Homo sapiens: one gene and its partners. The protein of the gene in region 6 interacts with the protein of the main gene of each other region in a pairwise test. Each region holds a gene or a part of one and is shown on either strand. Other genes may lie near its edges. The genes, in order: GABPB2, MAGEC3, LPIN1, LARP4B, MTNAP1, PIAS4 and SYNCRIP.

The links.
Region 1: the proteins of PIAS4 (region 6) and GABPB2 interact in binary tests that used the Homo sapiens proteins (3 or more experiments, as listed by UniProt).
Region 2: the proteins of PIAS4 (region 6) and MAGEC3 interact in binary tests that used the Homo sapiens proteins (3 or more experiments, as listed by UniProt).
Region 3: the proteins of PIAS4 (region 6) and LPIN1 interact in binary tests that used the Homo sapiens proteins (3 or more experiments, as listed by UniProt).
Region 4: the proteins of PIAS4 (region 6) and LARP4B interact in binary tests that used the Homo sapiens proteins (3 or more experiments, as listed by UniProt).
Region 5: the proteins of PIAS4 (region 6) and MTNAP1 interact in binary tests that used the Homo sapiens proteins (3 or more experiments, as listed by UniProt).
Region 7: the proteins of PIAS4 (region 6) and SYNCRIP interact in binary tests that used the Homo sapiens proteins (3 or more experiments, as listed by UniProt).

The regions. Positions count from the first base shown.
Region 1 is NC_000001.11:151,115,761-151,119,260, reverse strand, and holds part of GABPB2 (GA-binding protein subunit beta-2), read right to left. Parts: intron 1,870-3,500; coding exon 1,745-1,869; intron 1,305-1,744; coding exon 1,005-1,304; 3' UTR 1-1,004. UniProt on the Homo sapiens protein: May function as transcription factor capable of interacting with purine rich repeats (GA repeats).
Region 2 is NC_000023.11:141,876,316-141,879,815, reverse strand, and holds part of MAGEC3 (melanoma-associated antigen C3), read right to left. Parts: intron 642-3,500; coding exon 385-641; intron 1-384.
Region 3 is NC_000002.12:11,753,132-11,756,631, forward strand, and holds part of LPIN1 (phosphatidate phosphatase LPIN1), read left to right. Parts: intron 1-2,615; exon of another isoform or gene 2,616-2,733; intron 2,734-3,500. UniProt on the Homo sapiens protein: Acts as a magnesium-dependent phosphatidate phosphatase enzyme which catalyzes the conversion of phosphatidic acid to diacylglycerol during triglyceride, phosphatidylcholine and phosphatidylethanolamine biosynthesis and therefore controls the metabolism of fatty acids at different levels.
Region 4 is NC_000010.11:858,706-862,205, reverse strand, and holds part of LARP4B (la-related protein 4B), read left to right. Parts: intron 1-3,500. UniProt on the Homo sapiens protein: Stimulates mRNA translation.
Region 5 is NC_000017.11:73,238,933-73,242,432, reverse strand, and holds part of MTNAP1 (mitochondrial nucleoid-associated protein 1), read right to left. Parts: intron 333-3,500; exon of another isoform or gene 190-332; coding exon 82-189; exon of another isoform or gene 11-81; coding exon of another isoform or gene 1-10. Other genes in the region: CPSF4L (putative cleavage and polyadenylation specificity factor subunit 4-like protein), read left to right, coding at 1-10. UniProt on the Homo sapiens protein: Critical regulator of mitochondrial DNA (mtDNA) abundance. Binds dsDNA throughout the mitochondrial genome without sequence specificity and controls mtDNA copy number by promoting its replication.
Region 6 is NC_000019.10:4,017,736-4,021,235, reverse strand, and holds part of PIAS4 (E3 SUMO-protein ligase PIAS4), read right to left. Parts: intron 1-3,500.
Region 7 is NC_000006.12:85,622,387-85,625,886, reverse strand, and holds part of SYNCRIP (heterogeneous nuclear ribonucleoprotein Q), read left to right. Parts: intron 1-1,774; coding exon 1,775-1,910; intron 1,911-3,199; coding exon 3,200-3,405; intron 3,406-3,500. UniProt on the Homo sapiens protein: Heterogenous nuclear ribonucleoprotein (hnRNP) implicated in mRNA processing mechanisms. Component of the CRD-mediated complex that promotes MYC mRNA stability.

The DNA of each region.
Region 1 (3,500 bases), on a different chromosome or scaffold from region 6:
CCATGGCTCACTGCAGTTTTGACCTCCAAGGCACAAGCGATCCTCCCACCTCAGCCTCCTGAGTAGCTGGAACCATAGGTGCCTGTCACCATACTTGGCTAATTTTTAAATTTTTTGTAGACACAGGTTTCTATGTTGCCCAGGCGCATCTCAAACTCCTGGACTCAAGCAATTCTCCCATTTCAACGTCCCAAAGTGTTGGGATTACAGGTGTGAGCCACCACACGCAGCTTATTTCAGTTTCTTACACAAGCATCTGAACTATAGACACATAATGGATAAGTATCTGTCAGACAATCAAAAATTTCTTCTCAGTGATGTGGTGGCATATGCCTGTCCTCCCAGCTACTCAGGAGGCTGCGCCCTGGAGGCGGAGGTTGCAGTGAGCCAAGATTGCACCACTGTACTCTAGCCTGGGTGACAGAGTCAGACCGTGTCTCAAAAAAAAAAAAAAAAAGGGAAAATTCTCTTCAGTGAAATTAACTTAAGGTTGGGAGTTCCTGCTCCTTTGGAAATGGACTATATTCCTTTTCTCTTCCCCAAAGCTTGTCTAACTTCCCTTCCAATTGGTTTTTCCAACAGATACGCATCATAAATCTAAGGGGCATTTTCAGGTCACTTGATGGTATAATTATTAAAGGCATATATATTGGTGCATATATATTAGAAATGTTATCTTAAAATCTTTTGTGAGAAAGTCAGTTATTTAAAAAAAAAAAATCAACCCACAACATGCAGTATTCTTTTACTTCTATGTTTAAAGCAATGATATGAGCTAAGAAATTTGGTCCTTTATTCTTTTGGCCCCTCAGAAAAAATGTTCCCTAAATATGGCTTTGAATTTTCTAGTTGCACAGAGAAACTTCCTGAGCCCAAGCATTGTACCCTGCTATAGTTTTCTTCTTAAAGACACTCTTAGTTTTTATACAATGTTTGTCTTCTGTATATTTCCTTTTTTAAAAGAGGATTAATATGAACACAGTGCAAATTGTGGCCCTTGCATATTAAGATGAAACAGTTGCCATGGAAACTCTAGTGTGAGGCTCTGTGGTCCCTGCTGACCCAGTCACTTTTGTCTCTCTCTCTTCCAACTCCCCCTCTGTGACTACTACAGCATCTACCTCAGCCACCTCTTCAACCATGGTGAAATCAACTCCATTGGGCTGCTGTCGGGCTATGGCCTCCAGCTTAAGACGGTACTGTTCTGCTTCCTGCTCTTTCTTTAGGAGCTGGTGTCGGTATTCCTGGGCTCTTCGATTGGCCTCCTGGAGTTGTTGCTGTAGTAGCTCTCTTTCATTGCCTTCCTGTAAAAGTAAGCCATGTCACCACCAGGTAAATTCCTGATCATAAATTATCCAGACAGTAGACAAAAAGACAGGCCAGGAGCGGTGCCTCACACCTATAATCCAAGCACTTTGGGAGGCAGAGGTAGGCAGATTATCTGAGGTCAAGAGTTCGAGACCAACTTGGCCAACATGGCAAAACCCTGTCTCTACTAAAAATACAAAAATTAGCCAGGCATGGTGGCAGGTGCCTGTAATCCCAGCTACTCAGGAGGCTGAGGCATGAGAATCACTTGAGCCCGGGAGGCGGAGGTTGCAGTGAGCTGAGATCATGCCACTGTACTCCAGCCTGGGCAACACAGCAAGACTCCGTCTCAAAAAGAAAAAAGAAAAGATGAAGAAGGGTTCAGGCCTTAATAATTAAGGCTTTAAATTCTTTTCATCACTCCTAAAAACATTACCTTGCTTTCCTCCACACTGTTTGTCTTCTCTCCTATCCTTGGTTTCTTTGTTAGTGGCAACTTCTCTTCTTCTTCCTCTTTAATTACAGTCTCCTCTGCAACCTTACCAGCAGGTACAGTTAGAACTACAAGTCAAAGGACACCAATTGGAGGTGATGAATGCATAATAAAACAAAGAGGTTTTGCTTGCTTTTAATTAGAAAATAAACTAAAATATATTCTAGGTTGGGTACAGTGGTGTGTGCCTGTGGTCCTAGCTACTCAGGCAGCTGACTGGAGGACTTCTTGAATCCAGGAGTTCAAGACTAGCCTAGACAACACAGCAAGACCCCATCTCAACAAAAAAGCAAAGAAAGAGAAAGTAAAATATATTCCTTGATATATTATTTTTAATATCTCTTTGAATTTTCGAATCAACAGGTAAGGCATGGCCCTTCAGGGAGAAACAAAAAGGATTAATAGAGCACTGAGAATGGCTCAAAAAGGAAGGGTATAGATTTGCAGGCTTGGAAGCCATGCAAGTAAGTCCCAAGTCTGAAGCTCTTATATGAAGGTGTCTGACTCTAGGTCACCTATGGCCAATTAGCTTATCAATCCGCCCAGAAATGGCAGGGCAAGGTGGCTCACACCTATAATTCTAGCATGTTGGGAGGCTAAGGTGGGAGGATCACTTGAGCCCAGGAGTTCAAGACCAGCTTGGGCAACATGGCAAACACTGTCTCCGCAAAAAAAATACAAAAAATTAGCCAGGCATGGTGGAGCATGCCTGTAATTCCAGCTACTTGGGAGGCTGAAGTGGGAGGATCACCTGAGCCTGGGAAGTTGAGGCCGTAGTGAGCCAAGAACTCGCGACTGCACTCCAGCCTGGGTGACAGAATGAGACCCTGTCTTAAAACAAACAAACAAACAAAAAAAACTGCAGAAATAATCTGTCAAAAGAAGGCCTGAAGTCTTTATATATTTTTGAGACCTCTAATAAAAGCCAATAGCCATTATCTGTACCTAAATTAATTCTCTTCTCATAGATAAGTGAGAGAAGAGTCAACACACACACAACACACATGACACACTACACATCTGTCAGAATGGCTAAAAGTTGTTTTTTTTTTTTTTTTGAGATGGAATTTTGCTCTCGTTGCCCAGACTGGAGTGCAATGGCGTGATCTCTGGAGTGCAATGGCTAACTGCAACCTCCGCTTCCCAGGTTCAAGTGATCTCCTGCCTCAGCCTCCCAAATAGCTGGGATTACAGGCATGCCCCACTACACCCGGCTAATTCTGTATTTTTAGTAGAGACAGGGTTTCTCCGTGTTGGTCAGTCTGGTCTCAAACTCCCGACCTCACGTGATCCACCTGCCTTGGCCTCCCAAAGTGCTGGGATTACAGGCGTGAGCTACCACACCCGGCCTTTTTTTATCGAGAAGTCTCACTCTGTAACCTAGGCTGGAGTGCAGTGGCACAATCTCAGCTCACTGCAACCCCCACCTCCTGGGTTCAAGCAATTCTCCTGCCTCAGCCTCCTGAGTAGCTGGGACTACAGGTGCATGCCATCACACACAGTTAATTTTTGTATTTTTAATAGAGATGAGGTTTCTCCATGTTAGCCAGACTGGTCTCAAACTCCTGACCTCAGATATTCCACCTGCCTTGGCCTCCCAAAGTACTGGGATTACAAGTGTGAGCCACTGTGCCGGGCTAAAAGTTTTTTAAAAAGTGATGATACCAAATGCTGGAGAGGATGTAGACATACTGGATTA
Region 2 (3,500 bases), on a different chromosome or scaffold from region 6:
GCAGGCAAGAGCTTCTTCTTTCTGTGGTGGGAGGTCCCTCAGTTCTCCCTTAGGGCCCTTACCTTGAGGATCGGCCAGTTCTAAGAGTCTTCTGTCTGCTGATCTCAATTAAGCCTTCTCACAAAATGCCTCAAATACTTCAGACTCCCAGTGGGGCTAGGTCTCCTCTCTATGGAGGAACCACCCCTCACCTCTCTACCTCTTTCCCACACTTTCCTGACCACCTCCCGGCCCTTCTCCACCCCTTCCTGCCCATCTCCTGGGCCCCCTCCACCCCTTCCTGCCTACCTCCCCGACCCTTTCCACCCCTTCCTGCCCACCTCTCGGTATCCCTCCACCTTTTCCTCCTCACTTCAAAGCCCTCGTCCATATTTCCCTGCCCACCTCCCCGCTTTCTCCCCCCACAACCTTTTTCCAGGGCTGACGGCAGGAAGGGAAAGGGTGTAGCCTGTGCCTCTCCTCCATGTTGGAAGGTCACTGTCCTTCCACAGAGTTCTCTTCTCGTTGAGTGGCCAGTCCTGGGGTTCCTCCCTCTGCTTAACTGAAACTGCCCTCCTCAGAGAAAACTTCCCCTCCGGCTGACTCCCAAAATGCAAGTCAGAAAGTTGTAAACCTGGGGACCCTGATAGGGTCCTCCAGAGCTGGCAGCAGGCACAGGGACAGGGGAGGGGCACTACCAGTCATGGGTGTTCCCTTCCTGCCTTCCCGAGAGGCTGTGCCTGGACTCCTGGAAACCGCCTGGCCTTCCTGCCTCTGTGCAACTGAGTCTTTCACCTCCGAATAAGCCCCTCCCATCCCTGAGACCTGCAAGGTGCAAGAGAGGGAGAATCACATCCACCCACAGTGGGGTGGGGCCTCCCAGGCCCAAGGCAGGACTCTGGTGTCCTTTTTCTAAAATGGGGTGGGCAGGACTCTCTGTTTTCCTGCAGTTATTATTCCTGACATGGCCTGGGAGCCCTTCCCCTGCTGTCCAGAGACTATGTTCTTCAGATCAAGGTCCCCATTTCCATGAGACGCCCCCCAAGACGAAGTGAAAAGCGCTAGCATCTCTGACTGAGGGCCCTGCCCAAGGCCTCCCAGGGGTGAAAACAGGGCCTGGATTTGTGTGTCCTTCTGTTTCTTGGGAGGGGTGTCTCACCAGTCCTTCCTCTGTGTCATCCTGGGGATGCCTGGAAGGGCCTGAGTCCCTTCACCTCTCATGATCTGAAGTGAGACTCACCTAGGCAGAGCCTTCTCCTCTTTCTACCCTCTAAAATGTCAGGGGGACACCACAGTGGGCCACCATGCCCCAGGGCCTCCCAGGGCTGACAGCAGCAGTGGAGCTGGATTCTGTGGATCCTTCTCTTTGTGGGCAGGGAGTCTTGCAGTTATCTCTCAGAGGCTTCATGTGACTACTGGCTGGTCCTGGGTCTCCCTGTTCTTCTCATGATGACAGTATAACATACGGCAAAAAATAATGTAATTTTACCCTGAATAAAGCTAAAAAGCACGATGATGCCATGGTAATCAAGTTAACATCATCAGTGACAAATTTTGTTGGTACTATGTGCTGTCGGTATGATAAGAACGGCACTTCACCTCTCTGTTCATCCTTCCAGGAAACATTACCTACATCAAATCATGACAGAAAAAAATCACATAAATCCCAGTCAAAGTCAATTTTACAAAATACCTAACCATACGAAACTGTCAAAACTGTCAATGTTTTCAAAATCGAGAAATGTCTCAATCAACCGGTACAGCCAAAGGGCATCGAAGGAACATGATAACTAAATGTAATGGAGTATCCTTAGGGGATCCTGGCATAGAAAATAGAATTTCGTGAAAAGTAAGAAAATGTGACTGAAGTATGTTCAATAATAAATAAAGAATGTTTGTTAAAAACAATGTACAAATACTGGCTCATTAGTTTTAGGAAACCTTACCAAGGTAAGGTGTTAATAACAGGAGGCATTGAGTGTGGAACATATGAGAACTTTCTTACTATTGTTATAATTTTCTTGTAAATCTAAAATTATTTAAACATAAAGTTTATCAAATATGAAAAATGTTACCAAACTAGATAAAAGGATATGCATGAAAAACCTACAACAGATACATCTTTTAAGGAAATGTTGGAAGCCTCTAGTTTGAACTTGAGACCTAACCTAGAGTTTCTGCTACAAGTACTTCTATTACTTTTTATACTAGAGGTAGTAGCCAGTGTAGTAATCCAAAGAGCAGTAAATGAAGGAATGAGGATTGGCCAGTTGGAAACAAAGCGTTTGTGATTCATGCATGATTAGACTGTGCATGAAAAGAATCCAAAACAACTAAAGATAATTTATTCAATATATAATAGTATATCAGTTTGCTAGTATAAGGTCAATATTCAAAAGAATATCAACTTCGTTTTTTGTCAGGGAAAGAGTATGAAAATGAAAGTAAAGACTATATAATTTTAACCTATAGTACCAAAATATCAAGTATCTTAGGAAAATAATTTAACCAAAAACATTTTAACCAAATAAGACTGGGAGGCAGCTGATGGCTGGTTAAAATATTTTTTGGTTAAAAAAGCTTAACCAAAAAATTTTTACAGACAAAAATATTAAAATGCTGTTGAGGCATATTAACAAAGACCTACCTGAACATAAAATAAAATAAATTCATGGGCATGAAGATTCAATATTTTAAATATGTTGATTCTTCCCAAAAAGGAATCTACAGATCGACTGCAATCCTAAATCAAAACTGCCAAAGGGCTTTGGACATGAAGGCATGTGTGAATCACCTGATTCTAAAATATAAAGACATGCAAATGGACAAGCATAGTCAATATACACTTGAAAAAGAGTCATTAGTCTACCAGACAGTAAGAATTACAAAGCTACTATAATGAAGAGTTTGAGATTTGGGTGCAGAGATTGACAGATAGACCAAAGGAACTGAATGGAGAGTTCTGAAAAACAAAACCAACAAAACATGTATAAACATGTGCTTAACTGATTTTTAAAACTTGCAGCTTTAGAACAGGAGACAGTCTTCTTGAAATAAGTGTCAGTGGAACAACAGAATATCCATACAAAAACCCTAATGTAAGTGGAACCCTTTTTCATATTAAACAGAAAAAACAATTACAGGGAAATTCAAAACCTACCTTAAAATATGTTTATTATAAAAAACCTCAGAAATACACAGACATTCTTAGAATAATAAGTCTTTGTATAAATTATCTTTAAGCAAGTTCGCAGTATGAGTAAATTAGAGCATCTGTAAGGCTGGATTTGAAAGCACTGAAAGAGGCTGGGGTCTTTGGTCACTTCAGTACCAGGGAGAAGTAAGATAAGAGTCAAAGAGGAGCACAGGAAATAGCAGCTACTTCTGCCCCCTTGTCTCAGCCATAAAAGGCCTGACTGCTTTCATGAACCTTTGCTTCCTGAGAGCAGGACTTGAAATCTCAATAGTGGCTGGGGGAAGGCTACCTGGGACAACTTTGCATTAATTCCCTCTTACTTGGC
Region 3 (3,500 bases), on a different chromosome or scaffold from region 6:
AGACGCCTGCCACTTTGCCACCCTGGAAGCTCACTGCAAGAGCTGCAAAATTTCCCACCTGCCTAACACAGGCAGGGCTTTGGTGGCGGGACCCCAGGGCTGGCTGTTTTTGCTCTTTCATCACTTTTGTCAGGAAGTATTGAAAGACCTTTAAAAGGCCTCTGACTTGCAGGGCCTCTGACCTGCAGGCCTTTTAAAGCATCTCCAGCTTTTCTAGTGAGTTTTTGTATTTTGGACGGGAATGTCTCACGAACCCTGGCATGCCAAGAAAGTCCCCAATTTCCCAGCAGGTAGTGATGGATGCAGAGCTGTGCTCTTCTGTTTAAGAAGCTCCTCAAGGCACTCTGGCCAGGACAGTTTAACCACAGGGACGCTGGTGGACTCAGTCAATCCAGACCTGGCAGAGGGCAGCAGCTGCCTATAAGTGTGTGCCAGTTACAGCAGGGCGTGGGCTGCTGCCCAGGTGGCCTGACTTTCTGTCTGTGTTCCTTTCCCTGTATCACCCTGAGTCTGAGCCAGACTTCCTCTTTTGTCACAGGTAATTCATCACCCTTATCAACCGCCGTTAAGTATCAGTCCACAATGCTCTGAAAAGACTTCCTCTTTGCCGTAAGTGTAAATTACAGGAGGAAGCTAACACTATTTATAAATCAATTTCATTTTCATGCAAGTCTTATTAGTCATGATACCATTTTGGGCACTTCCTAGAAGCTTTTTGTGTTTTTAAATGCTTTGGATGAAAATCCTCATTTGTCTTGTAAACCTCCAAGGTGGATGTGATCTCGGCGAACACCAGTAACAGCGTGATGTTTGTGACTTTATCCAGTGCTGGGCGGACCACAGATAGAGTCCCCAGGTGCTGAGACACTGACTGTAGTGTGCTCAGAGGAGGGCGGCTAGGGCAGTGAGCAGGAAGCCCCAAAATCGTCCCTGTCAAGCCCAGCTGGGGAGCCGACAGTGCCTTCCCTAGAGGAAGGGTGCCAGGGGTGGTCATTTAGTTGTCCTGACATGATCCGTTGGCCCCACGAGCAGCAGCCAGGTCTGTATCTGAGAGCTGTAATTTCCTGCTGATAACAGGAACACAGATAAGGGGCACCCCATCCCAGAGTGATATTAGGTTGGCTTTTGAATCACCAGGCTCCTTGGATGTGCCTTAAGCCCACAGGTGCCCTTTAAGCACCTGCCGTGAGGGCAGATGTGACAGATCGTGTTTGCTCTCTGGGCAGTGAGTGGGTTTTGGGTAGCTTCTCTCCAGGAAATGATGAATCACTCGGAGCTGAGCAAGTGCCAGAGAAGTCTTCAATCACAGACTGAACCCAGGAGGGTGTTTCGGCCTTTCTAAGTCCTTAAGGGTTGTAGGGAAGGTTTTGAACAATGGCTTTTGACTTTACCTTCTGAGAGGCTCTGTCAGGGAGTGGTGATGCTGCGGGTGAGAGCAGTTTTGAAGGTGTCACATCCAGGGCCAACCCTGAGCCTTGCTTCTGTAGCCACCTCCTATGGGAGGTCATGACAATAATAAGATTTTGCATGTGTTGTCCAGGAGCAAAGACCTTTCCAAACTAGTCGTTGTGTTGACCACTGAGGATGACAGCCTGGTGGGCTCAGTCAGAGCCATTGTGTTAATACCCTGCTCCCACACACATAGCTGGTAAATGCCAGAAGTTAACACTCACAGCCAGGCCTTCCGACCCCCAATTTTGTGTCATTTCTGCTTTTCAGTCTTACCCTTAGGTGTCACAGCTGTTTATTTAAACTGTTTGCAGTGAATTTTGTTTGGGAGCATTGTCTTGTGAAATTTATGCTCTGGCAGAGAACAATTCCTGCTGTCTTCTTCATTTCTTCTAATTTTTTTTTTTTTTTTTGAGACGGAGTCACCCAGGCTGGAGTGCAGTGGCACGATCTCGGCTCACTGCAAGCTCTGCCTCCCGGGTTCACGCCATTCTCCTGCCTCAGCCTCCCAAGTAGCTGGGACTACAGGCGCCCGCCACCATGCCCGGCTAATCTTTTTTGTATTTTTAGCAGAGACGGGGTTTCACCATGTTAGCCAGGATGGTCTCGATCTCCTGACCTCGTGATCCGCCCGCCTCAGCCTCCCAAAGTGCTGGGATTACAGGCATGAGCCACCGCGCCCGGCCATTTCTTCTCATTTTTAAATTTTAGTGCTTTTCCCCCTCGTGCCCCGACTTGCCAAGCTACTTTGAGGGTGGTGGGTGCATCTTGCTGTTTTACACTCTGGAATGTCGTGATGGGACCAAAAATAAAAGTTTCTTGCTTGAGATGGGCCCTGCGATGGGGCAGGTACCGCGTCAGAAATGAGCAAGCCTCGTCCCTGTCCTCAAGGAGAGAAGACTCACTTGGTAGACAGATGTCTGTTCAGCCACTTGACAAATGACAGTAATATTGATCAAGCTACTGCCCTGGATGGCTGGGCTGGAGGGCTGAGGAGAAGGTTGAGGCTGAAAGATAGAGTTGTGTGGGCATGTTTATGAAGGGGTCATATACCTGGACAGCCGGGGGAGGAAATGGAGGAGGCAGGTGGAAATCCAGATTTGAGGGGTAATTATTGTTCAACTCCTGCAAGACACTTAGTTCTTTTTTTTTTTTTTTTGAGACAGAGTCTCGCTCTGTCGCCCAAGCTGGAGTTCAGTGGCGCCGTCTCGGCTCACTGCAAGCTGCGCCTCCTGGGTTCAAGCGACTCTCCTGCCTCAGCCTCCTGAGTAGCTGGGACTACAGGTGCGTGCCACTGTGCCTGGCTTATTTTTTGTATTTTTAGTAGAGACGTGGTTTCACCGTGTTAGCCAGGATGATCTCGGTCTCCTGACCTCATGATCTGCCCGCCTTGGCCTCCCAAAGTGCTGGGATCACAGGCATAAGCCACCACGCCTGGCCACTTAGTTCTTAAAGAAAGGAGAGTAGGAAGAAAAGTACAAGTGAGAAAGATGAACAAAAACGGGGATTGTAAGAGTACATTTATTGAGACAGTTTTGCATTTGCATTTGCTCGGCCAGTCTTATATATAATTAGATGTTGCTTACCATGACATCATTTCATTTCCAAGGAGCAAACCCACAATGTGAAAATGGACCCACTGTTATGTCCCAGATAACGTGCCTTAGGTAATGTTCTAGTTGAAGGAACTAGAAAGGGAATTAAAATCATTGTTATTTACTTGCATAATAAATGAGTGGAACAGCAGATTCCTGAATTGTCCATTAAGAGGCGTGGACTAAAATAATTCAAATCCCTTTATTTATTTATTTATTTTATATTTTTTTGAGATGGAGTCTCACTCTGTCGCCCAGGCTGGAGTACAATGACGTGATCTCAGCCCATTGCAACCTCTGCCTCCTGGGTTCAAGCAATTCTCCTGCCTCAGCCTCTCGAGTAGCTGGGATTACAGGCACTCACCATCATGCTAATTTTTGTATTTCTGTAGAGATGGGGTATTTTGTAGAGAGCCTGACCATGTTGGCCAGGCTGGTCTCGAATTCCTGACCTCA
Region 4 (3,500 bases), on a different chromosome or scaffold from region 6:
GTATTTATAAAGGTACAAAAATTAAGCCATGCTTGTTTCTTGTAAATATAAATTTGCCATCTTGAATTTGCATAAAGTGAATTTCCCGTCTACATGAGCAGTTTTCTAAATCTGAGGAAGGCCAGTATTCAGCAATGTAATTTGATTACATCCCCCTTGTTAATTCACCAGTAACTGGTTAGTGACTTGGGAATGGCAGAACATTGGGATAAACTGGAGTCATGTTAGAGTCCATTGAATTTAAGATGGCAAAGGAAAGGAATGCTCATCATTAAAACAGATTTTTACAAAAGATAAAAAGGCATTATACATTGAGGGAGTGAGAATCCTAATGGTAGGAAGTAAAATGGTTCAAAATAAACAATTTAAGTTTCAGACTAAATTGAAATGACCTAATCTTGAACTGGGGTCAGAATTTATACAGAAGATGGAAGATAGATAGGAGGTAGACAGATGTGAAGATCTGTCTTGAGGATGGAAGATGGGTAATGTTATCAACAGTGAAATAACTTGTGAAAATCTGCCTGAAGACAGGAGATAGATAACGTTACCAAAAGTGAAATAACATGTTAAAATCTATCTGAAGATAGAAGATAGGGAACATTATCAAAAGTGAAATAACAACATGTTAAAGTATATTCTGGAAAGTTTAATTTCAAAAGGTGATTCTTTTTAAAAGGGGTATTTAAAACTATTTTCAAAAAGAAGAAAAAGAATACCTTCTGCTTTGTCTTCCTCCTTCATCTGCCTCCACCTACTCCCTCTCTCACTCCTATAAAGCATTAGTGAGGCATAACCGATGTACAATAAACATCATATACTTCAGGTATACCCCAGATTTTCTGTAGCTTACAGACAATTGAGGAAATAATACATTATTAATGTGTTGCCTCTTTCATTCCTCTTTGCTTTGTCCACCCAGTTTGATAAGTTGTTCTGTACCTGTAAAATCCTCAGCACAATCAAGATCACGAACATCCCAAACACCAGGAAGAGCTTCCTGTGCCCTCTCCTTTCTCCGTGGAACCGGTGGTCTGTTTTTTTCTTTTTGAGATGGAGTCTTGCTGTGTCACCCAGGCTGGAATGCAGTGGCGTGATCTCGGCTCACTGCAACCTCCGCCTCCCGGGTTCACGCCATTCTCCTGCCTCAGCCTCCCCAGTAGCTGGGACTACAGGTGCCCACCACCACACCCGGCTAATTGTTTGTATTTTTAGTAGAGACGGGGTTTCACCGTGTTAGCCAGGATGGTCTTGATCTCCCGACCTCATGACCCGCCCACCTCGGCCTCCCAAAGTGCTGGGATTACAGGTGTAAGCCTTCATGCCCGGCCCAGTGGTCTGTTTTCTATCACTATATGTCAGTTTGCGTTTCGTAGATTTTTTTTCTCTTTAAAAAAAAAGATGGAACTCCTGGGCCCAAGAGATGTGCATCAGCCCCACAAGTTGCTGGACAACAGACGTGTGATAGAATTTGACAGTGTGTACTGTTTTTGTCTGACTTAGGTTACTATTTTTGAGACTGATTCATGTTGTAACATGAATTAATCATTTATTTTTATTGCTGAGAAGTATTCATGATATGGATAGATCACAGTTTGTTTTTCTATTCCCCTATTCATGGATTTTGGGATTGTTTTCAAAATGTGGCTTTGCCAATAAAAAGTGTTCATAAAAGTGAACATTTGTCAGCAAGATTTCATATAAACATATGTTTTCATTTCTCTTGGGTAAAATACCTAGGAATGGAGTAGCTGGATCATCTGGTAGGCATGTTTATCCTTTTAAGAAATGGTAAGGCAGTTTTCCAAAGTGGTGGTACCATTTTCTATTCTCAACCAGTGGTGGATTAAAGCACCACATCCTTATGACCCTTATGACCTCAGGGTCAGTCTTTAATTTTAGCTGCTGTAAAAGGGAGACAGTAGAATCTTACTGTGGCTTTAATTTATGTTTCCCTAAGGACTAATGCTATCAAACATCCTTTTTAAAAAAAAGACTGTTTTTTTTAGAGCACTTTCAGGTTCACAGCGAGTTTTAGTGGAAGGTATAGAGATCTCCCATATACTCCCCTCCCCCCCACCCCCACACATGCATGGCCTTCTTCACTATTCACACTCCCTCACCAGAGGGTGCCTTTGTATAATTGATGATCCTATATTGGCACATCATTATTACCTGGAGTCTACAGTTTACATGAGGGCTCACTCTTGGTGTTGTACGTTCTGTGGGTTTGGAGAAATGTATAATGACATGTACCCTCCATTGTAGCATCAGAGAGAGTAGTTTCCCTGCCCTAAAAGTCATCTGTGTTCTGCCTACTCACCCCTCCCTCCCCCCAACCCCTAGCATCCATTGGTTTTTTCACTGTCTCCATAGTTTTACCTTTTCCAGAATGTCATAGGGTTGGAATCCTGCAGGATGTAGCCTTCTTAGATAGGTTTCTTTCATTTAGTAACGTACATTTAAGCTTCCTCCATGTCTTCAAGGCTTGATAACTCATTTCTTTTTAGCACTGAATAACATTCCATTGTCTGGACATACTACAAATTACTTAGTCATTCACCTACTGAAGGACATCTTGGTTGTTTCCAGGTTTTGGCAATTACAAATAAAGATGCTGTTAGCATTCATGTGCAGGTTTTTGTACGGAAGGAAGTTTTTAACTCCTTTGGGTAAATACCCAGGAGTGTGATTGCTGGATCATAAGGTCAGAGTATGTTTAGTTCTGTAGAAAGCTGCTGAACTGCCTTCCAGAAGTAGAATTTCTGGATCATATGGTAATTCTTATGTTTAACTTTTTTTGGTGGAATCACCATACAGTTTTCCATACAGGCCATAGTATTTTACATTCCCACCATCAGTGTACAAGGGTTCCAGTTTTATTAAATCCTTGCCAATACTTGTTATTTTCTGATTTTTTTTTTTTTTTGAAATGGAATAATTCTGTTGCCCAGGCTGGAGTGCACTGGAGCAATCTCAGCTCACTACAACGTCCACCTCCCGGGTTCAAGCAATTCTCCTGCCTCAGCCTCCCAAGTAGCCTAGATTACAGGTGTGAGCCACCACGCCCAGCTAAATTTTGTATTTTTAGTAGATACGGGGTTTCACCATGTTGGCCAGTCTGGTCTCAAACTCCTGACCTCTGCCCATCTCAGCCTCCCAAAGTGCTGGGATTACAGGCGTGAGCCACCACACCCAGCTAACTTTTGTATTTTTTGTAGAGACAGGGTTCAACCATGTTGTCCAGGCTGGGTTCGAACTCCTGACCTCAGGTGATCTGTCTGCCTCGGCCTGCCAAAGTGCTGTGATTACAGGCATGAGCCACTGCGCCCAGCCTATTTTCTGATTTTTTTGATAGTAGTCATTCTAGTGGGTATATCTTTGTAGTTTTGGCTTGCATTTCCCTAATGGTTAGTGATGCCAAGCACCCTTTTTGTTCTTATTGGCCATTTGTCTTCTTTGGATAAATGTCTATTCAAATCCTTTGCCTATTTTTGAAT
Region 5 (3,500 bases), on a different chromosome or scaffold from region 6:
CCTTGCTTAACAGCCCGAAGAGAAACTTTTCCAAATGCCCAGAACCTGCAACAGAAGACAACAGTCAAACTCCAGCCTCACCTTTTTGTACAGCTCCCAAGAGCCTCATTAGAGAGAAGTTGGAGGTTGTAAGTCCGGCAGGGGGTTCCAAACTCCTTATATGAGTTGAGCTTCGTTCCAACAAAGAAACTATGGTTCCAAACAGAAGTCACTGTCATTGTTTACCGAAACGTACCCCCTTCCCTAACATCCAGTGCCGAAGGATCCACGGCTAAGCCTCAGGAAGAGCATATTCTAAACAGGTGCATTAAAGATTTCTGCATTGGACTGCAGCTAAGTGTTGAAAGTCAAATCAATTACAGGTTGAAAAAATGTTTTTCAAAAGGCCAAGGGACCCCTGAAAATCAGGGCGTCTACTTGTTTTTTGGTCTGCTGAGTACCCTGGCCAGGTGATTGATGCGCATGTGCTTCATGAAGTGAGTCTCTTACATCATCTTTTTGTTTTTGACACAGTCTCACTCTCTCGCCCAGGCTGGAGTGCAGTGGCATGATCTTGGCTCACTGCAACCTCTACCTCCTGGGTTCGAGTGATTCTCCTGCCTCAGCCTCCCGAGTAGCTGGGATTACAGGCACACGCCATCACGCCAGGCTAATTTTTGTTATTTAGTAGAGACGGGGTTTCGCCACTTTGGCCAGGCTGGTCTTGAACTCCTGACCTCATGTGTTCTGCCCGCCCCAGCCTCCCAAACTGCTGGGATTATAGGCATGAACCACTGCGCCTGGCCTCTTTTACATATTCTATCATCTGCTAAACATGTCAGCTAAAAGCGTGACTTTCTCCTTTTATGATTGTGACTTGCCCACAGTCAACATGCCTGTTCTATCACCCTATCGCTATTATTGGCCAGCAAACATTTCCTATTTATGTTCAGTGCATGAATAACTTAAGCAGAACCAGAAAAGAGGGCTTATGCAGGCCGGGCGCGGTGGCTCACGCCTGTAATCCCAGCACTTTGGGAGGCTGAGGTGGGTGGATCACGACGTCAGGAGATTGAGACCATCCTGGCTAACACTGTAAAACCCCGTCTCTACTAAAAAACAGAAAAAATTAGCCGGGCGTGGTGGCGGGCGCTTGTAGTCCCAGCTACACGGGAGACTGAGGCAGGAGAATGGCGTGAACCCAGGAGGCGGAGCTTGCAGTGAGCAGAGATCGCTACACTGCACTCCAGCCTGGGCAACAGAGCAAGACTCTGCCTCAAAAACAAAAAAAAGAGGGCTTATGCTCCTTAATCACATTTCTCCTGTACATGGTTTTCTCCATGTTTTATGACAGGTAATCTCTACTACTGATAGTTCTCTAGTCTTGGTTTGGTTCATCAAGATAAAGAAGAAATTAAACACCGACAACAGGTTTAGCAAGTGTGGTAAAAGTTGCTGTGGATGTAAAAATATCCAAATGATCATTAAAGAACAATGAAAAGAATCATGCTGGCTTCCAAGAAATTGCACAGAAGATAATTCTCTTGCAAGGTGAAGGTTAGTCTCTTAAAAAAAAAACCCATTCATCTTGGAAAAAATTTGAGGAAAACGGTGTAAAGAGACAACTTCCTGAAAATTGCAACCATGTTGTCAGCAGTGTCAGGATCACGTGGCTCCCTGACCTTGCCCTGCTTTCTCCAGTCAGGTGAGCCTACTGTCCTGACCTGCAGTTAATTCAGTAACTGTTAGCTCACTGGCCCTGCCTTTTAAGTACCAAAGGAATGAGTTGGCTTCCTGAGAAGGGCAAATGACCTATCAAAGGTCTTGCCTGAGTGAGAAAAGGTATAGCCCATTCTCTTGTGCAAAGATTCCAATAAAACTCTAATTTGCAGTCATTGGAGACAGTCATTGCCTGGTGAAATTACAAAGCTTTTTAAGGAGCCAATGGCACCATCTTTTAATCCCTATAGATTGATATGGCCTTGAAGTCCTTGGCCAATGGAGGGATCAGGGCTTGACCTGATCCTAGGGTCTCTCTCCTCTAGTATCTTGTGTTCATTTGGTGGTAACATCAAAGTCTGAACACTGATCCTGGATCCAACTTCAATAGTTTTTCAGTTTATAATAGAAGTAGAGGCCCTATGATGATTACACCTTATTTACTGTCTTGATGTAGAAGTCCCAAACTAAGTACAACATTTATTAGTTACAGACTATGAGCAATAAAAGGGATTAAAATAGTTTCTCACCACTATTTGGAAGGAACTTGTTACTGAAGAAAAAATTCTATTTTCCCTCCTATATCCTGTCTCATAACCTTGGTAATTTAATGTTTTAAGTTACTGTATCTTATTATTGTATTCTTAGGAGCTAACAGTGAAATGTATCAATAACATATCAAACAAGGTATTGACTTCTATCTGTGGTCTTTAAACTCTACTTGAGGCTTACTGTTTGGGAGAGTTAGTAGTTAATACCTCCAGGTTCACCTGACTCTTCTATCTGTGGTCTTTAAACTCAACTTGAGGTTCACTGTTTGGAATAGTTAGTAGAGTCAGACGAACCTGGGTTTGAATCCTGATTCTGTCACTTACTGCATGAACATAGGGAAGTCACTTAATGTCTGAAGCTCAGGCCAGGCCTGGTGGCTCACACCTGTAATCCCAGCACTTTGGGAGGCCAAGGCGGGAGGATCACCTGAGGTCAGGAGTTCGAGACCAGCCTGGCCAACATGGCAAAACCCCATCTCTACTTAAAAAAAAAAAAAATTAGCTGGGCGTGGTGGCAGGCACCTGTAATCCCAGCTACTCTGGAGCCTGAAGCAGGAGAATCGCTTGAACCTGGGAGGTGGAGGTTGCAGTGAGCCGTGATTGTGCCATTGCACTCCAGCCTGGGAGACAGAGCAAGACTCTGTCTCAAGAAAAAAAAAAAAAGATGTCTGAAGCTCAGATTCCTCAAGAGGAATAAGAGGGTGGGACAGTGGTGTCACTCAGAGCTGTTATGAGGATTAAATGACATAATGTATCTAGCATAACGATAGTCATAGTCATCACAGATAAACGTCAGGTCCCTCACTTTTTCCTCTAAAATGAAAAGTGTGTATCAAGGACACTCCTAAGCACTATAAAATGTAGTACAGAAAATACACAAGTCCTTCAATTTGGTAGAGAGATTTATCATGGGGGGAGTGTGTGCATCTGCAACTGAAAAACACAGAAGGCTGGACACGGTGGTTCACACCTGTAATCCCAGCACTTTGGGAGGTTGAGGCGGGCAGATCACCTGAGGTCACGAGTTCAAGACCAGCCTGACCAACACGGAGAAACCCCATCTCTACTAAAAATACAAAATTAGCCGGGCGTGGTGGCGCATACCTGTATCCCAGCTACTTGGGAGGCTGAGGCAGGAGAATCGCTTGAACCCAGGAGGCAGAGGTGAGCCAAGATCACACCACTGCACTCCAACCTGGGCAATGAGCAAAACTCTGTCTCAAAAAACAAACAAACAAAAAAACAAAACAC
Region 6 (3,500 bases):
GGTTGCAGTGAGCCGAGATTGTGTAACTGCACTCCAGCCTGGGTGACAGAGTGAGGCTCTGTATCAATAATATAAAATGAGGTAAAATAAAATAAAATACCTCTCTACACACCCACTAGCATGGCTAAAATGAAAGGACTGGCAACTCTAAGAGATGGCAAAGGTGTAGAGCAATCAGAACTCTCTGCTGGTGGGGTTATAAGACAGTACCATCACTCTGGGAAACTACCCTTATAAAGGTAAGCACAGACCTACCCTATCACCCAGGAATCAGGAATCCCACTCCAAAGTATTTTCCCTCAATACATGGAAACATGCGTTCAAAGAAACTTGCAGGCTGGGCACAGCGGCTCATGCCTGTAACCCCAACCCTTCAGGAGGCCAAGGTGGGAGGATCGCTGTAGCACAGGAGTTGGAGCCCAGCCCAGGCAACACAGTGAGACCTTGTCTCTAAAAAAAGTTTTTAAATAAGCCTGAGCCAGGTGTGCTGGTGTGCAGCTGTCATTCCCGCTACTCAGGAGGCTGAGGTGAGAGGACTGCTTGGGCTCAGAAGTTCGAGACCAGCCTGGGCAACATAGCAAGACTGTGTCTACATTAAAAAATATATTTAGATACAAAGCAAAAACGCTGAGCAGCGTGCACGTCCTGCTATCACTTGTGTAATGAAAATGGAGAGAAGGCATCTGAGTAAACACCTATTTGTTTATAAGTGTAAAAAATATCGGAAGAGCGTGGGGGAGCGAGAATCTGGCCACAATGGCAGCCTTGCAGTGGCCGGGAGACGAGACAACGAGATGACAGGCAAGCCCTTTAGAACAGGGATGGCGAACTGCCCCTGGTAAAGGCTGGAGCTCATCAGCTTCGCAGGCTATGTCTGTGCTCCCAGGTGCTCCCAGGACGGCAGTGCACACAGTGGTGTGGCCTGCACCCACGACAGGGCCTTTACAAGAACCGGAGCCATGGGATCGCACCTCAACTACCAGCACTGTCTTGGAACTTTCTCAATTAAAACCCACGAGAAGCCGGGTGCAGTGGCTCACGCCTGTAATCCCAGCACTTTGGGAGGCCGAGGCAGTCGGATCATGAGGTCAGGAGATAGAGACCATCCTGGCTAACATGGTGAAACCCCGTCTCTACTAAAAATACAAAAAATTAGCCGGGCGTGGTGGCAGGCGCCTGTGGTCCCAGCTACTCGGGAGGCTGAGGCAGGAGAATGGCGTGAACCTGGGAGGCGGAGCTTGCAGTGAGCTGAGATCCTGCCGCTGCACTCCAGCCCGGGCGACAGCGAGACTCCATTTCAAAAAAAAAAAAAAGAAAAAAGCCAGACTCCCTGGGCTCGGCTCCCAGCCCTGCCAGGGCCTCTGTGGCCTCAGCCTGCACGTCCCGCCCATGTTGACCTGTTTCTTCGGGGACCGGTGCCGGGTCTGTGGCTGGCCCTCAGGAAGAGGGGGCTGCCACAGCCGGTTCCCGTTTATATGCTCAGGGCACAGCCAGTCTCTGCAGAGGTGATGGGCTGTGGAGTCCCGGCTGGGCCCTTGAGGAAGGCCGCCTAATTGGGAGGGGGGCACACAGGCCACCTGCAGACGCGCCCAGGTCTGCCCTGAGTGCCAGGGGAGCAATGGTTCAGGGGCAGGGAGGCTGCACGGGAGCCTACACCTGAGCTGGGCCTTGAGCTTCCAGGCTGGGTCGGAGGTGAAAACACAGACACCCCACCCCTCAGTGTCTCAGAAGGAGGTAGGGGAGAAGGGTGGGTCCCCAGCAGGCAGCAAGGGAGCCACCCAGCTGGCCAGGGATTGTTGCCAGCCCATGCCTGGGGCAGACAGGGCCCAGTCATTGAAGAACAAGACTCTGGGGTCCCTGCCCTGGGAGGGCTCCTCCCTCTGGGGGAGACCGGGCTGTGCTTCTCTGCTGGGGGCCTGGGAGGTGCCCTGTGCTCTCACTGCTGTGCCACTGGCCCCGGGCCGCTGACGGTTCCCCCCAAACACCCGGCCCCCCTATGCTGGGGAAGGGGCTGTGGGGTCTCCCTCAAACCTGCCCTTCTGCCCTCGGGGTCAGCTGTTTGGGGCCAGAAACCCAGGTGGCATCCATGAAGCCCCCGTCTCTGCTGTCCTGCAAACATCCACTCCCTCAGCCAGTCCTGTCAGCTCTGTTTTCAAATCCCGCCCGGTGCAGACGACTGCCCCCAGCTCTGCCGGTCTCAGCAGCCAGAGCCCGCCCCCTGGGATGGCTCCGCAGGAGACCCCTGACCCTCAGTACCCCTGCTCAGGGCCACACACACCCCGGCGCACACACGGCCACCACCCTGGCCTCCTGCTTGGGCCCCACCAGCCATGCTGCATCAGGGCCTCCGCACCTGCCATTCCCTCTTCTGGAACCTTCCTCCCCCGACCAGCCTCATGGCCCTATATTTGTCTTTGTACAAATGTCACCAGAAGGAAAGCCTTCGCTGAGCACCCCATTTAAAAACCGCACCCCCCGCCACCTCACTTTTCTCCAAACCTTCTCCTCCTAAGGAGCGACTCAGTTTCCCTACATCACTCTGCTGCTCCTTCTTGTTGGGCCACTGAAGCATGAAGTTCCCCAAGGGGGAGATGGTTTCGTGGGCTGCCCAGCATCCAAGGCCACGGGACCAAGGCAAGGGCACCACTGAACCAGATGCACCTTTGGGGCCAGGTGCAAGATCAGGTGACCACGGGGGCCCTGCCAGGCAGAGCCGGTTCTGGGGTGAGGTGCTCAGCCAGGCCCTCCGGCCCGGGCACGAAAAGCAGCCCCTGGGCCCGATCCGAGAGCCCAACAAGAAGGGCCCAGCCGTTGGCTCCACCCAAGGCTGCCAGGGAGCCTCACGAGATGCTGCTGACGATGAATATTTAACGCTGTGAGCAGATGCTCACAGTATGGGGGGTGGTTATAAAATAGCAGCCAGGACACAGCCACACATTCCTACAATCACACATGCAAAGGGAGAAGGCGGCAAGCACCGGCCCGGTGTACCGAGGCGGCCCACTCGGGCAGCAGGGCGCCGGCCGGACTGCTCTGCTGTTGACTCCAGTTTTCTAGGACAAGCGCATAATTGTACAAGTTTAAATAGAAATGAAACACAGGGAGTTTTTAAAAGGCTGACTGGGGCCGGGCCTGGTGGCTCACGCCTATAATCCCAGCACTTTGGGAGGCCGAGGCAGGTGGATCACTTGAGGTTAGGAATTCAAGACAAGCCTGGTCAACATGACGAAACCCCGTCTCCATTAAAAATACAAAAAATGAGACTGGGCGCAGTGGCTCACGCCTGTAACCCCAGCACTTTGGGAGGCCAAGGTAGGTGGATCACCTGAAGTCAGGAGTTCAAGACTAGCCTGGTCAAGATGGTGAAACCTCGTCTCTACTAAAAGTACATAAAATTAGCTGGGTGTGGTGGTGCGTGCCTGTAATCTCAGTTACTTGGGAGGCTGAGGCAGGAGAATCGCTTGAAGCCAGGAGGCTGTAGTAAGCCAAGATCGCGCCAC
Region 7 (3,500 bases), on a different chromosome or scaffold from region 6:
TGGGGGGCAAAATCACTCCTGTTGAGAACTGTTGGTCTGTGTTAACATGGAGGAGTATTTTGTTGACCCTTTTAGGATTTATGTATTGTAGTATTGGGTGGTTGAACTTAATTTACAGGTATCCAGAGGAGCTTGTATGGTAGAAGTTTCAGGGAAGGAAGGCAATTTCTTCAGAGCCATAGGAGTATAAAAATTGCATGTGGCCCAGCATGGTGGGTCACACCTGTAATCCCAGCACTTTGGGAGGCCGAGGCGAGTGGATCACAAGATCAGGAGTTTGAGACCAGCCTGGCCAACATGGTGAAACCCCGTCTCTACTAAAAATACAAAAAATAGCCGGGCATGGTGGCAGGCGCCTGTAATCACAGCTACTCGGGAGGTAGAGGGAGGAGAATTGCTTGAACCCAGGAGGCGGAGGTTGCAGTGAGCCGAGATAGTGCCACTGCTGCACTCCTGCCTGGGGGACAGAGCAAGACTCTGTCTCAGAAAAGACAAAAAAAAAAAAACCCTGTATGTTTAAGAGTTGATATAAAAAGGTATTTGAGAGAGAGAGGAGAAAGTAGCAGGAGTCATCTTTTTACTTTTTTTAATGTTGTGTCTCTGGCATAAATGTAGAGAAATAGAAGTAAACCTGGGATCAGGAGGGCCACACACTTGAATAGCCTGTACAGAATAGTGGGGTAGAAAGCAATAAATTTTTCTGAACTGGAGGTATGGTATTTGAACTTTATTAAATTTTGATTTTCTGGAGATGGGGAAGGGACAGGGAGGACTCAACTTTCTGACTTACATGTTTTCTTCTGTTATACCCGGTGTACCTAGCAAGGATGGGCATAATAGAAGAATGGTTTCTTTTGCTGTAAGGTATTTCTATAAAGTTGTATGGAAATTGATGTTGGTTCTTTAGTTTGTGTAGCTCCACGTGTAGAATAGATTTTGAGGTTAGGTGTGGGAGGATTAATCAATAATTATTGCCGCTGCTGCCGCCATTATTAGTAACAAATTTTGAGGTGTGGTTTTAACTAACCCATATAATCCACTTTTCTAGATTACTTGGATACTTTTGCACTTGGGTTTGTAAATAATACTAATTGGTGGATTTGTCACTTTGACATGTTGCTTTTTGCCTCTGCTTTCTGATAATCTGGGATATGGTTACTCGAAAATTCAATTTACTTTTTACTGTAGTTTTAAAGTTGTTTCTGTATATTTTTGCCATGACAAATCTACTTCTCTTTCTCCTTCATAATTTGTTATATGCATAATGAAAATGAAATGGGGAAAAAGTACAGTTGGATTTAGAAATAAAAGCTGTTTTTTTAGGCTTAAATATTTGAAGCCTGAAATTTCTTATTACAACTTTTGATAAGAGGAAGGGAAGATGGAAAAATAGATTTAGGTGCTGGTTAACAGAACGGCAGAGATCTTGCTGATCTTGGGATCAGTTTTCCTTGTATGAGAATAACTGGTTGATGGGATGAACTTAAGTAAAAGTTAAGTTTTTGAGGAACTGGCAGTTTTTGAATTTAAGCTGCTGCAGATCTGATTTCTAATTAATCAAGTAAAGGATTTAATAACCTTTTATTTGCATTAAATTGGTTCATGAACTTGTCCAATGGGTCTTGTTAATATAATCTGTTCCTCATAATTCCCTTGTATGGGAATTAAGGTAAACTACTTTTTAAAGGATGATTTGCTCTTGTGTATCTTTTATAATTAACTGTTCTAGTTGTATAAGTAATTTAAAAACATGATGCACTTTTTCCCCTTTCAGTATAATAATCATGAAATTCGTTCTGGAAAACATATTGGTGTCTGCATCTCAGTTGCCAACAATAGGCTTTTTGTGGGCTCTATTCCTAAGAGTAAAACCAAGGAACAGATTCTTGAAGAATTTAGCAAAGTAACAGGTAAGTTGGATTTATTTGGAATGAGGTGCAGCTTTTAATAATGAAGATTAATAGCATATTTCTGTGCGTCATGCATTGTTCTAAATACATTTATTGACTCATCGAATCCTCACTACAACTTTTGAAGTGTAGGTAACCCCATTTTTCAGATAAGAAGAACAGGCATTCAGGGATTTGGGAAATAACTTGCCAAACGTTGTACAAGTTAGTAGGGAATACAGCTAGGGTTTGAATTCATTCTGCAAAATCATTGTTCTTCCTATGTTTTGGAAGATCGTATTTCTTTGTGTGTTCTTTCTCTAGGTGTTAGTTGATGTTCTTAGTAGAATTGTTTGAATAATGATTTGATGTTCTTGAAATTACAGGAGTAGTAAGTATTGCCGTAGCAGAGTGTTTTTTTTTTTTTTTTTTTTTGGAGACAGTCTTGCTTTGTTGCCCAGGCTGGAGTGTGCTGGTGTGATCTTGGCTCCCTGCAGCCTCTGCCTCCCAGATTCAAGGGATTCTCTTGCCTCAGCCTCCTGAGTAGCTGGGATTACAGGCGCGCACCACCACACCTGGCTAATTTTTGCGTCTTTTGTAGAGGTGGGGTTTCACCATATTGGCCAGGCTGGTCTTGTACTCCTGACCTCAAGTGATCTGCTTGCCTCGGCCTCCCAGAGTGTTGCGATTACAGGTATGAGCCACCGTGCCTGGCCCATAAACAGAGTTTATATATTGTCAACATGGTAAAAAAATTTTTTGAACTGTAACAACTTTTAAGTGACAGGTTGCTTTTAGAAAATATTTTGGTCTGCCAACAGTGTCTAACAAATTATCAGCCTGTTATCAACTTTCAGGACATTGGAAATTTTTATGCAGTACTTATAACTTCTATTTTATTTGAAATAAAGCCATTGATATCTAAGGCCAGAAAAGTGCCATTAAAAATAATTTTAGTGTTTGCATAATAAGAAAAATAGCCATATTTGATCTATACTGCCATTTTCTTAGAACAATTATATGAAAATTTTTATCTGCCTCTCTGATCTAATTAGTGAAAACAAAAGTAGTCCTTACCTCTAAAAAGAGCACATGTTCTTTTCTGGAGATTTCTGTGTTGAAAAACTTGGAAACAGATTAGGAAAATAATCCGGACCTAGTTTTTGATAGTCTTTTATAAAGATGTCTAGTGAAGGAAAGAGATGATTTTTCATTTTGATATTTAAGTAGTATCTTAGATAAATCCTTTGATCCACTTGTATTTGCTAGTTATTTCATCTAATTTTCCTGGAATGGTTGCTTACTTGCAGAGGGTCTTACAGACGTCATTTTATACCACCAACCGGATGACAAGAAAAAAAACAGAGGCTTTTGCTTTCTTGAATATGAAGATCACAAAACAGCTGCCCAGGCAAGGCGTAGGTTAATGAGTGGTAAAGTCAAGGTCTGGGGGAATGTTGGAACTGTTGAATGGGCTGATCCTATAGAAGATCCTGATCCTGAGGTTATGGCAAAGGTAATGATAGTCAAGTTAAAAATATTTTTTGAGGGATTAATGGGAGAAGGGCCGGGGTTGGGGTGGGGGGAACATAAAATGAACAGTATACATTT